Regions from separate parts of the Homo sapiens genome. Here region 2 is linked to region 1. Evidence: fine-mapped expression QTL. A gene starts in region 1. The other region holds a variant in brackets. All regions are shown on one strand. Distances are between the middles of the regions.

What was found. PIP is the estimated chance that this variant, and not a neighbour inherited with it, causes the effect.
Region 2: its variant is the best candidate, but not a certain one, in a credible set for the expression of ST3GAL6-AS1 in lymphoblastoid cells (CAP, PIP 0.73).

The regions. Positions count from the first base shown.
Region 1 is chr3:98,731,271-98,733,770 of GRCh38, forward strand. It overlaps ST3GAL6-AS1 (ST3GAL6 antisense RNA 1), which reads right to left and starts at 1,381. Exons shown (of 5, transcript NR_046683.1): 1 at 1,156-1,381. It also overlaps a transcript of ST3GAL6 not described here. RefSeq lists enhancers at 847-1,595, 1,596-2,343.
Region 2 is chr3:98,710,921-98,713,936 of GRCh38, forward strand. No RefSeq gene overlaps it. Among named protein-coding and RNA genes, the nearest start is that of ST3GAL6-AS1, 20 kb to the right of the region's middle. The variant T/TA (reference allele first, on the strand shown) is at 1,729.

The sequences.
Region 1 (2,500 bases):
AAGCGATTCTTCTGCCCCAGCTTCCTGAGTAGCTGAGATTACAGGCGCGCACCACCATGCCCGGCTAATTTTTGTATTTTTAGGAGAGACGGGGCTTCACCACGTTGGTCAGGCTGATCTGGAACTCCGGACCTCGTGATCCGCCCGCCTCGGCCTTCGAAAGTGCTGGGATTACAGGTGTGAGCCACGGCGCCCGGCCATTTTTTTTTTAAAGTAAGGTTGGGAAAACAACAAATGATACCTCCTAGGGCTGTTATTACAATTAAGACAAATACCAGAGCACTTTGGCAGGTGGAGGCGAGCGGATCATTTGAGGTCAGGAGTTCGAAACCAGCCTGGCCAACATAATGAAACCTCATCTCTACTAAAAATACAAAAATTAGCTGGGAGTGGTAATCCCAGCCTGTAATCCCAGCTACTCGGGAGGCTGAGGCAGGAGAGTCGCTTGAGCCTGGGAGGCAGAGGTTGCAGTGAGCCAAGATCATGCCCCTGTACCCCAGCCTGGGTGACAAAGCAAGATTCTGTCTCAAAAAAAAAAAAAAAAAAAAGGACAAATACCAGAAAGCCCATCACAGATGAAGGACTTTGTTCCAGTTCGTGACACATTGCCAACTTTGAATTACATCCAAGTCCGTGGGTCTTCTCTCTGGGGTCAATTGATGGCACGTGATTACACTGCTCAGGGCCCAAAGGTTGGAGCTATGACTTGAATGTTTCTAGACAAGGAATTATTTGACAAACACACTTTAAAAAGTATTCAGAGCCATCCAAGTAAGAGGACATTAATAACGTAGGGTTTTGCCTATGGAGAGAAAAGAAAACGCAAACAGCACGTTCCACCTTCGTTCTCCCTAAAGTAATTTATCTCCTTCAAAAGATAAAAAGTACGAACACATTTGCCCTTGAAGGGCAGAGCCCCGGAATTCAGGAGCTCTCTGAACACTCCTCCCCTTCTGATAGGGACCAAACCTTCTGCTGAGCCTTGTGTCACAGTCAGTCCGCGGCGCCACAAGCCTCAGTGTTTACTTCTGCCGCCTGCCAGCCGGGCGGGGAAGGGGAGTACCCGGCCACCCCTCACTTTAGCTCCTGCAGCTTTCCAAACAAACCAGGGCGGGATGGGAGTGTCTTCTTGGCTGTGGAAATCGATCCTCCTACCTTGTCCTGAAGCCACCCGCCGCCTTTCCTCGTCCCTCCCTTCGCGGTGATTTTCCGGTCCCGGCGCCCGGCGAGGGCGCGCGGCTGGTGTCCGCCCCGCCCGAAAGGTAGGGGTTCGGCTGTGCTCCCGCCTGGTCCCCAACGCCTCACCCTCCGGGAGACCCGCAGCCTCCCACCACTTTGCACCTTCCTCCTCGAATTTGGGGGCGGCCACCGTGCAACTGGCGCCAGCCGCGGAGCAGGAGGAGCTTCCCGCGACTCCGGAGGCGCTCGGCGCAGTCGCCCGGGATTGGGGCTGGCGGGAGCCTGAGACTCCGGGCAGGGCTGCTCCCTCCTCTGCTCCCCCGCCAGATCCGCGGGGAAGGAATCGTGCCCGCGCCGCCCCTGGCCCGCGCCACCTTCCTTTGGTTTCTGCCGGCCTCGGGCTTCTGCGGCCCGATGTGGCAGGCGCCGCGAGAGAGGCAGCAGCCGGCTGGAGCAGCGGCCCCTCAGGTCTCGGAGCCCGGTGCGCCTCTGCGGTCGTCGCTCCTGGGCCTCGGCGGGTCACTCTTGCCGGCCGGCTTCGCTGCGGGTTTGCACTGCCCGGGTGAGGGAAATTGGGGGTGCGGGAAGACCGGTCTGGGCCGGGGTCCGGGCGGCCTGGGGTCTGTGCTGCCCCGACCCTCCGGCTTTGCAGCCTCTGAGGCTCAGGGTTGGGGGTGGGGACACGGAGCGCTGTTTGCCCCTCCACATATCCTGCCAGCACCAAGGAGGTGGCGTGCGGAGGCGTAAAGGGACCATGGGCGCTGGGACCCGCGAGCCAGCCGGCGTGCGCCGCAGCCACCGCCGAGAGGGCACCCGGGGATCCTGGAGCCCCAGTGAAGGGCGGGAGGGACGCGCAGCCTCGCGGGTAAGCCCAGGAGCCGTGGGGGCCGAGAGAATCTGCTCTGGGACCCTCTTTTGTCGAATCGCCGGCGAGGTTGTGCAATTGGGAAGCCAAGAGGAGTGTCCAGCTCCTCGTTCACTATTGTTTTCTTGTAAAAGGGTCTGTACGCGAGGAGGGTTGAGGGGTCTGGAAGGTTCTGGTCTCTTACCGTATAAAGTTTTTCGAGAAACCCTTTTTCCCTCCACAATGGAACTAGACCTAACAAAACAAGCTCCGAGGCAGTTTAGGAGAAAGGAGGACGGTGAGTAAATTGCAGTGTTTGGGCTGCTGTTAATTTTCAAGATAAGGGAGAAGCAACTTGTCATTTTGAGGCCGCCGGCTCCGGAGATCCCGGCAATCTCAAGCCTCTTTCTTGTGTGCTGTTATTTTGGCTTAAAAGAAAACCTATAAAAAGCGACGCCCAGAAACCAAAAACAAACC
Region 2 (3,016 bases), 20 kb before region 1:
TAATCTGTTTTTTAACAAATGTCTCTGTTGAAGCAAGAGTTTAAATCTTTACAATGCTACTCTATAATTTTGTATATTCTGCTTGGCACAGCCCTTTCTCAATTCTTAGTTCTAATTAATCACTCCTTCCACTGGATTCCTGTTCTCATGCCTGGTGCAGCAGGAACCGCATTGTGTTAAAATCAGCTCTCTTTTTCCTTTTTTTTTTTTTTTTAGACAGAGTCTCTCTGTTGCCCAGGCTGGAGTGCAGTGGCACGATCTCTGCCCACTGCAATCCCTGCCTCCAGGTTCAAGTGATTCTCGTGCCTCAGCCTCCCAAAAAGCTGGAACTACAGGCGTCTGCCACCATGCCCGGCTAATTTTTGTATTTTTAGCAGAGACAGGGTTTCACCATGTTGGTCAGGCTGGTGTCGAACACTTGACCTCAAGCAATCCACCCACCTCAGCCTCCTAAAGTGTTGGGATTAAAGGTGTGAGCCACCATGCGCGGCCAAAATGAGCTCTTTTTATGTCTGTCTCCCTGACTAGATGGGGAGCTACTTGATGTCCAGGATCCTGTTTCTTCTTTCTTTCTTTTTCCTGGGTTGCTCATTCCATTAATCTTTACGTAGCTGGGTTCTCCTCATCATTTAGACCTCAACTTGAAAGTTCCCTCCTCAGAGAAGTCTGTTCTGATAACGCAATCAAGAAGCCCTCCAGTCATTCTCTGTCATATCCCATTTCCTCATCTAGTGTAAAGCACAGCAGATGCTCAACTGCAACTGGATTACCCAAATGCAGCTTAAATACATTCTTAGGACACCAAAAACAGAGGCATCAAAAGAACTTTTTTTAAGTTAAAAAGTGGTTATTTTTAAACTACAGAAAAAGTCATTTGAAAATTATCAGGATCTTGCTGGTCTCCCACTTACATTATGGACTAGTATTATTTTTATATAGAATTACATATTGAGTATGGACTCTATAACATTTTTGAACTTTGAGTCTCTAAAGGTTTTAATCTGGCACTCTGCATAGTACCTGCTTATCAATATCTTTGTTTTCCAAAACATATTGAAAATATGTTGGATGGGTATCATTATCCAGTCTTACCTCGAAGAGGTTAAAAAACAGAAGCACAAAAAAGAACAGAAAAAACATTGAACTGATTTTTTATTTTATTTTTTGAGATGGAGTCTTGCTCTGTCTCCTAGGCTGGAGTGCAGTAGGGCAATCTCAGCTCACCGCAAGCTCCACCTCCCAGGTTCACACCATTCTCCTGCCTCAGCCTCCCCAACAGCTGGGACTACAGGCACACGCTGCCACGCCTGGCTAATTTTTTGTATTTTTAGTAGAGATGGGGTTTCACCGTGTTAGCCAGGATGGTCTTGATCTCCTGACCTTGTGATCCGCCAGCCTTGGCCTTCCAAAGTGCTGGGATTACAGGCGTGAGCCACCGCACCCGTCCCGAACTGATTTTTTGGAATCCTTCCTGAATTTGAGCATTTTACTGGGAATAGAATATTAGACTAATAAATTGAGCATTGAACAATGCCCAAAGAGTATGTTCTTTCCTTGCAAAAAGCCTCTTGAGCATTAAAGAATCTACTCTCCAGAGGTTTAATTTGGGCAAGACCCTCACCACGATGAGTTCACTTCATTTTTCTTACTCATGAAATATGGGAACCAAACTAGATAACCTGTAAGATGTGGACCACCTAAGCATTAGACAATTCTACCTTGAGACGT[T/TA]AAAAAAAAAAAAAGTGCGTGACTCAAGATTTTTTACCAGAAACTCTTCTTCCCCTGATTAAGGTGACTCATCATTCTATCAAAGAAAGAAATGATCTGGCATTATTTATACTCCTCAGGGTCCCACTTGTTATTCTGCTGGGGCTTGAGTTTGTCTCATATGAGACTAGTCTTTGATTTTCTGCATTCTTTAGGATAAATTTAGATGGCACTGGGCTCCATATCCACAGCCGCCAGCATGGTCCAAGCCATTGTCATCTCTTGCCTCAGGTCCTGCAGTAGTCTCCAGACTGGCTTTTCTGCTTCCACTCTTGCATCATTGTAATTCTTTCTCCAAGTAGACCTCAGAGTGATTTTTTAAAAAATATGTCAGATTCAATCACTCCTTGCGTAAAATATTTTATTTACTTCCTTTCGCATTTAGAATCAAATCCCAATTCCTTACCCTTGCCTTCGAGGCCCTGCGTGATGAACGATCTAGCTCCTACCTCCTCTTTGGCTTCCTTGCCCATTACGCTCCCCTCGTATGATATGCTCCAGCCAGACCGATCTGCTGGTTCTTCCCTGCACATGCCAGGCTCATTCATACTATTATAAATAAAGTTTCAGTGCCGCAAAAGAAATAGCGCTCGAATATAAAATTTTCTTTTTAATTCTCAGCAAGACAACGTACTTCTATAGAAGGGTGCACCCTTACAGATGGAGCAATCGTGAGCGCACACTTGGACAAGGGAGGGGAAGGGGTTCTTATCCCTGAGGCACGTGGTCCCTGCTGCTGTATGGTTCCCCTATTGGCTTGGGTTAGACTGCACAGGCTAAACTAATTCCAATTGGCTAATTTAAAGAGAGTGACAGGGTGAGTGGTTTGGCGGGAAAAATGGTTACAGGGCAGAGCAGGAAATCAGAGTAAGCCAGGGTGGAGAATGAGCAGGTAATCAGAATGAGTCAGGGTGGAGCAGGTAATGGAAAAAGGTTGCTTTACGAGGAAGTTAAGTTTAACAGTAGAAGGCAAAGAACTGAACATACTGACATATTGATTCTTTGAAGAGAAATTTAGAACTCATACCTAACAGTACTTGGAGAGTGTGCATGAGCCATTCCCTCCGCCTGAATTGCTCTGCATAGCAGGTCCAGCTGTTGAATTTATGTTTTAAAATGTGCTCAGGATTTGTTTAAATCAGGTATAGTAAGGCAGCAGTCATGGAAATGACTGTCATGAAGAAAGAAGTTTTTACACTTGCAGGTTCCTAGAAACACGAGGTAAGCCACGAAGGCCCACAAAGGAAAG